Regions from separate parts of the Homo sapiens genome. Here regions 1 and 2 are each linked to region 3. The links come from fine-mapping of genetic effects on plasma protein levels. A gene starts in region 3. Each other region holds a variant in brackets. All regions are shown on one strand. Distances are from middle to middle.

Region 1 (4,242 bases), 15 kb before region 3:
CAACAAGTGGTTATTCTTATTCAAGAATGAAGTGGAAATCTGAGTTCAGATGTTTGCACCAGGGGAGGAACAGCAGGGTTTGAAAAGCTGTCTTGAATGAACACTGTGTCCCTGTGTGTCTTAGGACAAGGGGAGAATTTCTAAAGACAGAGAAATTCAGCTGGTCCTGAAAGATGAGGACTCAGGAATCCTCTTTGGATCAGAAGGGACCTCCTGGGACAAGGATGGCTGCTCATGTGCTTTTCCTCATGGTGCTAAGTTTATCCTGAGGTAGAAAAAAGGGTCTTCATGAGACACTTCAGCAGAAAGTTCTGTCATTTCCCTGACATCCTTCTTTTCTGTGTTTATGCTCATGTTTTTCCTTCCAAAACAGCTACCTCTGTTTTTTCACTAACAAAAAATTCAGCTCTTTGCTCTGTCTTGATTCTTTGTCACTGGCTTGAGAAAAATATAAACCAAGCCAATTTTATATAAGTCAAGCTGGTTAATGTTGTCCTGGCAGACACTGGCTTTTGTTCAGTGTGAGAGGCTGATGAAGCGTGAGTCAAAACGTAACTAAAGATGCTGTCTAGCTCTATTAATTCATTCTTATCCCCAGATGTGGAGGAGCACCCTCTCAAGGACAACAGTTCCCCTTTAATACATTCAATATGTGCAATTTTTTAACAGACTAAACACCAAATTTGTTTACCAGAAGCACTGGGAGGGAAAGAAAATACCAACAGGAAGTAAAATTAAAATAAAATAAATTGCAGGCTACACACACATCTTGAAGAGGCCACAGCACCCTGTAAGTAGGTGACTGTTAATCTCTGTGCTTAATTATGAGTCCCAAAGTCAGACTTCAGATTCTACAGGATGGTAATTCTGCACATCTTCAAATGCACTTCTTGGGCTCACACACCAGAGCTCCAGGCCATCAGGAAGTCACAGTTATGGTTATCAGTAGAAAACAATAAGTGAAATCCTGATGGACTAGGATGTTACTAAAAAGCTGCCACACCCATCTCCCACCCAATTTCTTCACCATGGTGAGGCACAGAATGTGGAAGCCGCTAATTGCCACTGTGATCCTCTGGGCTCCCTAAGGGCAGAAAGCAATTTTAAAAGGAAAAGAACAACAGGAGAGAGAGAGAGGAAAAAAACAAAAAAAAAAAAAACAGAGATAGAGTGAGAAAGAAATTTTCAGAAAAGCCACCCACTGCAGCGAAGAAAACAGAGCAGACATTAATTCCCTTTTCATCTTCCTTTCCACTAGGCTGTGTTCAAAGGCATTTAGCTGCACCATGGTGAAATACGTTTTAGTAGAAAATGCATTGTCTTAATTGCTGGCTTAATAAATCTCTCAGTAATTATCAACTTGGAATCAAAATTCTTCTCAGAGAGGAGAAACTCTCTTTATGTGGGCAAATACCTTAAAAAGGCTCTAGCAGTAGAAGAGGTGATCCTTTAGTGGCAAGAGCCCAGAAAACAAAGAACAAATTAATGGCTCTGAATGTGTTAGAATAATAATTTGTGGGGATGGAGCCCCAGAATAGAAGAAGGGAGAGAAAAGAATAAAAGCACGGGAGCCAGGAAATGGTGCCAGGGTGGTATTATGTTCCGTAAAACTGACAGAACAATCCCCGCACACTCGCCCCTCCCTCTTCCCCCAACCCTTTCCACATTTGTGATACTGTGGCATGGAACAGATACCACACGTATGGGGTCCAATAGCTGGAGCCAGAATTAACCATACGAAATACACTTCCTCCAGACCTGTAGATCTGGGTAAGAGCTTTGGCACTGGGCACGGAATGGTGTGTGGGGGAGGAAAATGGGTCATGTTCATCTTATACATATAGCAA[T/C]AATCTGGACATCCCCAGAGAATTACTGAGTTTCACCAAGTTAGATTAGCCACTACTGGCAAGTGGTTACCTTCACTGCCAGTTGCCACAGGTAAATAACAAGTACCCTTGTACCTTGTTGCCTTTAAAATACAGATTCAAATTATTCTTCTCCAAGAAAACTTCTCATTTTCTTTCCTTTTGGACCAACCACATTGGGATCAACTAAATTATTGTCAAAACCTTCTACTATAAAAATTATTCTTCTTGGTGAGAAGGAGAGGTGGCCTATATCCTCAATATAGGCCTTAAACAAATAGTAAAGGAGGAAAATTTCCACTTTGGCCCCTTCCCACCTGCATCTCACTGAATTTTTTTGAATTTTTGAATAACACCTCCTCCATTCTCTAGAAAGATTTTTCCACATCTAGCACAGTGCCAGCCACATAGTAATTTTAATTGATTGAACTGAATTATAAAATCACATAACAGCACAAGTGATTACATGAAGCAGTTAAGAAAAATGTTTTAGACATGTTTATTACTATTATTGTTATAACTTTCATTATTATAAATGAAATAAACTACATTGGGGAAAGGGTGACTTGTTTTTGCATACTTACTGCTTGAGAGTCATTGCTTACTCGTACCCATATTGCTAATGCTAGGATCAAGATACCACATAGCTGCAGAAAAAAACAAACAAACAAAAAGAATACAATTAGGATCATATGAAACTCTATTTCCACACCCTCCTATCTATCCGGTGACAGTAGTTCATCATCGACTATACTATCACAACCTGGAAGACATAAATGAGGCATATTCATATACAGATCATTGTTGAAATGTTAAATTGCAATGTGTAAGTTTGATGAGAATAATTCTATTTCTCATCCACAACTCACTCACAGCTCTATGGACAAGAAGTTATTTCCATTAGGCCTGGAAAGATTATTTTTCCATGTAACTCTAGCCCTGTGTTTCTGCTAGATTTTAGCATACAAAAGAAAAGTCACAACAGTTTAAAGATAAAATATCCTTATCATGCCTCTGGGCTTGTTTGTGAGAAGCTATGTTGGACCAGGAAAAAAGGGAATGACGGAATAGTCACCATTCATTTAAGATTCGACAGGAAGGGAGATGTTGGGATAGAGGGGGAAAAAGTAAAACATACGACAAGATGTGCAGTTAAGCAACAAGGCTATATAATAATCAACACTTTTTGAACCCAAATAAACTCTCTTAAAAACAAGCTCTTTTAGGTGGTAAAGTTTACTCACAGAGAAGGAACAATGAAAGACAGAACTTGAAGTCTTAAATTCCTTTAATGATTTTACCAGATTATTTAATTTGGACCAATGCCAACACAATAAAATGTAAAACACATTTTACTTTAGTGTAAGGAAAACTCTTGTCATTCAGGGTTTAAAAAAAAAAGTTATGCATTGTGGCTTCAAAAACAAAAATCAAAGATCTATTATTAGATAGAGATGTTAAGAGCTGTGTCTGGTAACATACCAGACACAGCAGGCCTTGGGGGACTTAGTAGACAATTCTGACCTTGCTGTGCTCTGACAGACAAATGTCCTTGGAGCATCATTGCTTTCGTGCATGGTTGAGACATACGCCTAGAACCCCAAGACAGCACTTTTAATGGCTTCTCATTGAGTTTGCAGGGGAAATAGAGTCAAGGGCTCTGTTAAGGAATAGGAAGCACAATGAGTAGTTGAGTAACCATAGACTCTGTGCTCCCTAAAAGACCTTGAAAATCATCTAGGTCTAAACCTCTCATTTTGAATGGAGAAATTGGAATCCTGGGCGCTAATTATTACATCATGAAAACCCGGAGCAATTCCTAACCAATCTGCCCTTACAACATACTTCAGCTCCTACAAAATAACTAATGCAATTAAAAACCAAAGCTCTTTAACCACCAAATAACCTATGCAATTATCTCATACACACACATAGACACACACACACCATAAAATACAAATGATTAAAAAACACAGCTTTCGTGTTTGAAAACTTTCCTTACTTCTCTAACCCTGAGATTTATAGCATCCTTTCACAAAATTCTAATTTCATTTGCAAACAAAGACAAATGCTCATTTTAGCAGTCCTTTGTTAAACAGTTTGTGAGTGATAATTTATGTCAAATGATAATGAGACCCTCTGGGATTTTCAGTAATTTCATACCAACTGAATTTTTTGTTTGTTGTTTAGTTTGTTCACTGATTATCTTCTTTCGTTTTCTTCTCTTTTCACAAGCAGATTCATAATGATTGGCTTAATAGTCATTCTGGCCTTCATCTGTAACTAATGAACCTTGTAGCTATTATGAGTAGCATTCTTTCCTGATATTTGTTAAACTATCAACGAAAAAACTTTAAGAATTCTTAGTAAGAGCTTA
Region 2 (4,242 bases), 37 kb before region 3:
CTACGTGAAGAATGCAGAAGCCTCAGGAGCCGATGCGATCAACTGGAAGAAAGGGTATCAGCAATGGAAGATGAAATGAATGAAATGAAGCGAGAAGGGAAGTTTAGAGAAAAAAGAATAAAAAGAAATGAGCAAAGCCTCCAAGAAATATGGGACTATGTGAAAAGACCAAATCTACGTCTGATTGGTGTACCTGAAAGTGATGGGGAGAATGGAACCAAGTTGGAAAACACTCTGCAGGATATTATCCAGGAGAACTTCCCCAATCTAGCAAGGCAGGCCAACGTTCAGATTCAGGAAATACAGAGAACGCCACAAAGATACTCCTCGAGAAGAGCAACTCCAAGACACATAATTGTCAGATTCACCAAAGTTGAAATGAAGGAAAAAATGTTAAGGGCAGCCAGAGAGAAAGGTCAGGCTACCCTCAAAGGGAAGCCCATCAGACTAACAGCGGATCTCTTGGCAGAAACCCTACAAGCCAGAAGAGAGTGGGGGCCAATATTCAACATTCTTAAAGAAAAGAATTTTCAACCCAGAATTTCATATCCAGCCAAACTAAGCTTCATAAGTGAAGGAGAAATAAAATTCTTTACAGACAAGCAAATGCTGAGAGATTTTGTCACCACCAGGCCTGCCCTAAAAGAGCTCCTGAAGGAAGCACTAAACATGGAAAGGAACAACCGGTACCAGCCGCTGCAAAATCATGCCAAAATGTAAAGACCATCGAGACTAGGAAGAAACTGCATCAACTAACAAGCAAAATAACCAGCTAACATCATAATGACAGGATCAAATTCACACATAACAATATTAACTTTACATGTAAATGGACTAAATGCTCCAATTAAAAGACACAGACTGGCAAATTGGATAGAGTCAAGACCCATCAGTGTGCTGTATTCAGGAAACCCATCTCACATGCAGAGACCCACACAGGCTCAAAATAAAAGGATGGAGGAAGATCTACCAAGAAAATGGAAAACAAAAAAAGGCAGGGGTTGCAATCCAAGTCTCTGATAAAACAGACTTTAAACCAACAAAGATCAAAAGAGACAAAGAAGGCCCTTACATAATGGTAAAGGGATCAATTCAACAAGAAGAGCTAACTATCCTAAATATATATGCACCCAATACAGGAGCACCCAGATTCATAAAGCAAGTCCTGAGTGACCTACAAAGAGACTTAGACTCCCACACATTAATAATGGGAGACTTTAACACCCCACTGTCAACATTAGACAGATCAACGAGACAGAAAGTCAGCAAGGATACCCAGGAATTGAACTCAGCTCTGCACCAAGCAGTCCTAATAGACATCTAAAGAACTCTCCATCCCAAATCAACAGAATATACATTTTTTTCAGCACCACACCACACCTATTCCAAAATTGACCACATACTTGGAAGTAAAGCTCTCCTCAGCAAATGTAAAAGAACAGAGATGATAACAAACTATCTCTCAGACCACAGTGCAATCAAACTAGAACTCAGGATTAAGAATCTCACTCAAAACCACTCAACTACATGGAAACTGAACAACCTGCTCCTGAATGACTACTGGATACATAACGAAATGAAGGCAGAAATGAAGATGTTCTTTGAAACCAACGAGAACAAAGACACAACATACCAGAATCTCTGGGACGCATTCAAAGCAGTGTGTAGAGGGAAATTTATAGCACTAAATGCCCACAAGAGAAAGCAGGAAAGATCCAAAATTGACACCCTAATATCACAATTAAAAGAACTAGAAAAGCAAGAGCAAACACATTCAAAAGCTAGCAGAAAGCAAGAAATAACTAAAATCAGAGCAGAACTGAAGGAAATAGAGACACAAAAAACCCTTCAAAAAATTAATGAATCCAGGAGCTGGTTTTTTGAAAGGATCAACAAAATTGATAGACTGCTAGCAAGACTAATAAAGAAAAAAAGAGAGAAGAATCAAATAGACACAATAAAAAATGATAAAGGGGTATCACCACCAATCCCACAGAAATACAAACTATCATCAGAGAATACTACAAACACCTCTATGCAAATAAACTAGAAAATCTAGAAGAAATGGATAAATTCCTCGACACATACACTCTCCCAAGACTAAACCAGGAAGAAGTTGAATCTCTGAATAGACCAATAACAGGAGCTGAAAATTGTGGCAATAATCAATAGTTTACCAACCAAAAAGAGTCCAGGACCAGATGGATTCACAGCCGAATTCTACCAGAGGTACAAGGAGGAACTGGTACCATTCCTTCTGAAACTATTCCAATCAATAGAAAAAGAGGGAGTCCTCCCTAACTCATTTTATGAGGCCAGCATCATTCTGATACCAAAGCCGGGCAGAGACACAACCAAAAAAGAGAATTTTAGAC[C/G]AATATCCTTGACGAACATTGTTGCAAAAATCCTCAATAAAATACTGGCAAAACGAATCCAGCAGCACATCAAAAAGCTTATCCACCATGATCAAGTGGGCTTCATCCCTGGGATGCAAGGCTGGTTTAATATACGCAAATCAATAAATGTAATCCAGCATATAAACAGAGCCAAAGACAAAAACCACATGATTATCTCAATAGATGCAGAAAAAGACTTTGACAAAATTCAACAACCCTTCATGATAAAAACTCTCAATAAATTAGGTATTGATGGGATGTATTTCAAAATAATAAGAGCTATCTATGACAAACCCACAGCCAATATCATACTGAATGGGCAAAAACTGGAAGCATTCCCTTTGAAAACTGGCACAAGACAGGGATGCCCTCTCTCACCACTCCTATTCAACATAGTGTTGGAAGTTCTGGCCAGGGCAATTAGGCAGGAGAAGGAAATAAAGTGTATTCAATTAGGAAAAGAGGAAGTCAAATTGTCCCTGTTTGCAGACGACATGACTGTATATCTAGAAAACCCCATTGTCTCAGCCCAAAATCTCCTTAAGTTGATAAGCAACTTCAGCAAAGTCTCAGGATACAAAATCAATGTACAAAAATCACAAGCATTCTTATACACCAACAACAGACAAACAGAGAGCCAAATCATGAGTGAACTCCCATTCACAATTGCTTCAAAGAAAATAAAATACCTAGGAATCCACCTTACAAGGGATGTGAAGGACCTCTTCAAGGAGAACTACAAACCACTGCTCGAGGAAATAAAAAAGGATACAAACAAATGGAAGAACATTCCATGCTCATGGGTAGGAAGAATCAATATCATGAAAATGGCCATACTGCCCAAGGTAATTTACAGATTCAATGCCATCCCCATCAAGCTACCAATGACTTTCTTCACAGAATTGGAAAAAACTACTTTAAAGTTCATATGGAACCAAAAAAGAGCCCGCATCGCCAAGGCAATCCTAAGCCAAAAGAACAAAGCTGGAGGCATCACACTACCTGACTTCAAACTATACTACAAGCCTACAGTAACCAAAACAGCATGGTACTGGTACCAAAACAGAGATATAGATCAATGGAACAGAACAGAGCCCTCAGAAATAACGCCGCATATCTACAACTATCTGATCTTTGACGAACCTGAGAAAAACAAGCAATGGGGAAAGGATTCCCTATTTAATAAATGGTGCTGGGAAAACTGGCTAGCCATATGTAGAAAGCTGAAACTGGATCCCTTCCTTACACCTTATACAAAAATCAATTCAAGATGGATTAAAGACTTAAACATTAGACCTAAAACCATAAAAACCCTAGAAGAAAACCTAGGCAGTACCATTCAGGACATAGGCATGGGCAAGGACTTCATGTCCAAAACACCAAAAGCAATGGCAACAAAAGACAAAATTGACAAATGGGATCTAATTAGACTAAAGAGCTTCTGCACAGCAAAAGAAACTACCATCAGAGTGAACAGGCAACCTACAAAATGGGAGAAAATTTTCGCAACCTACTCATCTGACAAAGGGCTAATATCCAGAATCTACAATGAACTCAAACAAATTTACAAGAAAAAAACAAACAACCCCATCAAAAAGTGGGCGAAGGACATGAACAGACACTTCTCAAATGAAGACATTTACGCAGCCAAAAAACACATGAAAAAATGCTCATCATCACTGGCCATCAGAGAAATGCAAATCAAAACCACAATGAGATACCATCTCACACCAGTTAGAATGGCAATCATTAAAAAGTCAGGAAACAACAGGTGCTGGAGAGGATGTGGAGAAATAGGAACACTTTTACACTGTTGGTGGGACTGTAAACTAGTTCAACCATTGTG
Region 3 (4,242 bases):
CTTTCTTTTTTTGTATAACCTGCTCCCAATGTTTAATCAATTTAAGTATCTCAAGGGAAGAAATGTATCAGAACTAACTAAAAAACTGGCATATATGTAGCATGAGCTACATTAAATATTTGCAAAAGCAGCCCATTTTTTTAACCTAAAAACAGCAGCCCATTTTTTTTGCCTTCTTTATTTTACTTTTTTAAATATTTACTTACTTATTTAAAAGTCACCAATATATCCATTTGTACTCATTAGCACTACTGATCATTGAATGGAAAATCAGTCTATACAATAAAGCTGTATTCATGTAGTTAAGTTTAATTAAGTTCATCATTATTTTAATAGAACAGAAATATAGCAACACATAGGTATGAGATGTCTGTTTACTAAAGATCAGGTACAAAAACAAAACCAGAGTTCTTTCATCCTTGGAGTGGATAAGGTAGCTTTTAATCCAGTATACAAAATACTTTTTTCATTTAAATACTTTGTGCTATTTCCACTGATTGACATTTAAACAATCTTTAATTGTACCATATATGCTAAAAATGATAAGGTCAATGTCCCAACATCCCAGCCTGCTCTTTTCATACCTTGTTTTTCCATTATCTATTGATAGATATCAGTTATCAATTTGTTGGTTATGTCTATGTCAATGGACTTTCAAGAGAAACATAACAAATTGCTAAAATACAAATCCTGTCAATTAAAAGGTAGGGTGATGACACATCAAAATACTGACTTTAAAATGCCAATACATATATATATCCACGGTCTTAGTTTGATTTTCTTATGATTTAGGAATTTTATCATTTCCCCCTCAAGTTTTTCATGACCCATTTTTTTTGTCTTTGAGGCTCTGAAAATGATCTTTATTGTCCCACACCCTGCGATTCACCTGTTCAAACCCAGAAGTGAAGGGCGGGAATCAGGACCCGGGCTCCGGATGGAATCAGACCATGTTTTTACCACAGAGTCCTTAAATTAGGGAGGCCTGCTTGATATACAACTAAGGAAAATTGTCCTTTAATTAAGGGGCATTTGTGTTCCTCTGTGATTTTTTTTTGCAGCAATATGAAAACATTTATGAAATGTTTATCCTCACATTCTGAAGTGCACTTTTTTGAGTCCTTGGCTCATTTTCAATTACTGAAATAACCAAAGAAAGAACAAACAAATCCAAACAAGTACATGGAAAATACATTTTCCCCCTTCTCTTATTTCTCTAGTGTACAGTCTGTTCTTGTTTATGATATTTATATCAAGATCCCCTTTCTTGCATAAAATTGATAATTAAAAGGAAAACACTTACCCAGAACAAGAAGTTGAAGGTAAACATAGAATATTTTATACAGGCACTCACACCTGCCATTTCGGAAAAGGATTAGGAATCCAGATGCCGTGAATTTAACTATTCGTTACAGGCTTGTCCTGCAATATGCTCTGGAGCAACTTGCCTGCAGAGATTTCTGTATCCACGGCTTCAGAGCAGAAAGAGAAAGCAAAGAAGTAGAGGGAGGAATAAAAAGTTATTAAACTGGATAAAAAAATTAACCCACACATTTAAATATCGCAAAGGCTATTAACCCACACATTTAAATATCTCAAAGGCTATTAACTCACACATTTAAATATCGCAAAGGCTATCTCCAGGCAAGTATGTTCCTTTGCTTGTCATAGCTCCTGGGGCACTGGGCCAGGATATTTATGATCCTTTCTCAAAAACTGCCTCCTCTAAAGTAAACAGATATCAAGTGAAGGGAATGGCACTGGATCAGGCAAGAGAATGGCACAGTGCTACTAAGTTCTTGGCTTTCAGAAACCACTGCCTGACTTCCCCGCCCTCCATTTCAACTATGGGGAAATAAGGTTGTTTTGTTCTGAGTTAAATGGACATTGTATCTCTACTCATTTTTGCATTGCATTTTCTCAATACTACAAAATTCCTTCTAAATGCAATAAAATGCATTTAGAAATCTGCAAAATATCAAAGCTTAGACATAGCAACCTGTTATCATTAAACCTAGAATAGTAAAATAACCATTACATGTATCTGCCCTCCAAAACATCTAAATTTATTTCAAAAGAATTCCAGAGCTGCCGTAAATACACCACAGAAATTGCAGAGGGAGAGGCAGCCTTGCCTATCATGATAAGACCATTTGCTTTTTATCTTTATTTCTTTATGATACAAAGGGAAAGAAATCATAAAGTGGCACTGACTGCAACATTGTTTTCATTTTATAATGCGTAGTCATTCTGATAGCTTGGTTTGTTTTTAAGGTGGACACTGTAATTTCCTTCCTCTGATAAATTGTATCTAGCAACAGCTGTTCTCCACCAACTCAGTTTCTGGATTCCAGGTCCTCCCGGACAAAAAAATTCAAAATGGGAAGGTGGTCATGGATCAGTGACCATAGATTTTACTATTTGTTTCTAGTGCTAATAGAAGGCAGCTGTCTCAGGTAAAGGCAAAATGCTCCGACATCATCAGGGAGGTGTGGACTGCTTTGTGTAAACAGCCTGGGTCATGTTAGTTTCCACATCCTGCCTCTCAAAGGGAGTTCTTCTCCCCCTAAATAAAAGAACCCTCTACTTTAAAAGGTTGTTGAGAAAATTATTCTTTAGAATCTTTGCTAAGTTTTACACGATAAGCAAGCATGAACTCCTTACAAAAGAAAAATATTATTTCTAATTTTCACTGGCATACAATGTTTTTGAAACAATTCTACTCCCTGACTACAAATACAATATATTTTAATGCATTATCAACAATAATATATAGCGTTAAAGGCCAAATTTAGGATTAATTCCAAAAATAATGGCTTAATATATAAATCATCACTAAAATTGTTTGTGTTCTCTTTCCTACTAGAAAATGGATAGTTTCACAACCTTCTATTGAGATATTTTGTATATAGAATAATCCAAGGCTGAAAGAATAATTTCAGATTGAATGAAAACCAAAATTGATTCATAGTCCCAGAAATGATTATTTATCAGAGGCTAAAATTAAAAAAAAATTACAGATTTAAATGCTGCTTTGTTGAAAAGAATGTATTGAATACTACCAAATTTTAGTTTGAAATAGATATTTTGGTGGATGCTGAACATCCTTAAAAAGAATACTGTGTAGTCTTTAGTTGAATCACTCTTGAACTCTGTAACACAAAAATCAATGGATGTGTTTGTACAGGAGAATGACTGTGTAATAGAACCCCTAGTCTAATTCAAAACCTATATGAAACAGTTCACTCCTGGAAATTCCTATTCCTATTAATGTTATAATCACACAACACTCTCCCAGGCTGAATTTGTACAGATATTTTGTATTTCTCTTTCTTTCCATCCAATCACTCTTACTGGTCTGTGTAGCTCCTAAATTACTGTCAAAACTATTTCTTCCATCTCATCCTTTTGCATTTCATTATTCAGTCCTTTATCATTTCTTACTTGAGCTGTGTCAATAGAATGAGAATTAATTTCCCTGGCAGTTTCTCCCAGTTCCTCTCTGCCTTAGCACTTTAAAATTCTTTTTGAGAAATACTTATTGATTAGGTAATGATAATGATGAAAACCCAATCTAAGGATATTTTCCTTTTACCTACAAGATAAAGTTCAGATTCCTTAAAGTAGCATTTACAGCACACAGCAAACAAGTCCTCCACCCACTTTCCAGAATTTTGTCCCTCCCCTTTCTTCCTAGGCAGCCTCCACTTCTAGGCTCCATAACCACAGAATTATTTCCCAGGCCTAGAACACACCTTTGGATTTTATGCCTTGTTCCTTCTGCCTGGAATATCCTTTCCCACCTTCTCTATTGCAACATCCCTGTGGAGCCTTCCCTTCCTCATCCTCTGCCCCCACTCTGGGCAGATTTACTTGCTTCTCAGTCCTCAAGTCCATTATTATTTGAACAGACCTTAAATCTACAATTGCCACTATATCACATTTATTTGTGTCTCTCCCCCACATTTGATTCTATATGCCTGAAAAGCAGAAATCTTACCCTATTCACCTCTGTACCTACAGTAGCTGGCATTAGAGCTACAGAGATTTGCAATGGCAGCCAAGCTCCTCAGAAAGTTCAACTAGTGATTTCCTCATTAGGTTCTCTAGGGAACTACCAATATGCTACCTCTGCCTTTAAAAAATCTATTAGGTCAAGAAAAACAGTTTATTAATTTCAGGACTTGTCAGAGCCTTCAACTTTCTAATATTCAAGGAGGTGATATATAGCAATTCTGAAAT

Direction of the effects. Positions count from the first base shown, and alleles are read on the strand shown. Strength reflects both the effect of a copy and how common the allele is.
For the plasma level of the protein whose gene starts at base 1,684 in region 3, C is the high allele of the variant in region 1 and T is the other (strong association).
For the plasma level of the protein whose gene starts at base 1,684 in region 3, allele C in region 2 goes with a higher level than allele G (weak association).

Evidence for each region. PIP is the posterior inclusion probability: the model's chance that the variant is causal. Protein levels are from antibody-based Olink assays in UK Biobank. Linkage for the fine-mapping came from a reference panel and not from the study's own genotypes, which makes the PIPs less certain.
Region 1: its variant is fine-mapped to the plasma level of the TSPAN8 protein (UK Biobank, PIP 0.97).
Region 2: its variant is fine-mapped to the plasma level of the TSPAN8 protein (UK Biobank, PIP 0.90).

What each region holds. Positions count from the first base shown.
Region 1 is chr12:71,141,702-71,145,943 of GRCh38, forward strand. It overlaps TSPAN8 (tetraspanin 8), which reads right to left. Exons shown (of 9, transcript NM_004616.3): 3 at 2,450-2,512. Among named protein-coding and RNA genes, the nearest start is that of TSPAN8, 14 kb to the right of the region's middle. The variant T/C (reference allele first, on the strand shown) is at 1,848.
Region 2 is chr12:71,119,277-71,123,518 of GRCh38, forward strand. No RefSeq gene overlaps it. Among named protein-coding and RNA genes, the nearest start is that of TSPAN8, 37 kb to the right of the region's middle. The variant C/G (reference allele first, on the strand shown) is at 2,376.
Region 3 is chr12:71,156,316-71,160,557 of GRCh38, forward strand. TSPAN8 (tetraspanin 8) reads right to left here and starts at 1,684. Exons shown (of 9, transcript NM_004616.3): 1 at 1,615-1,684; 2 at 1,304-1,472. The coding sequence starts at 1,363.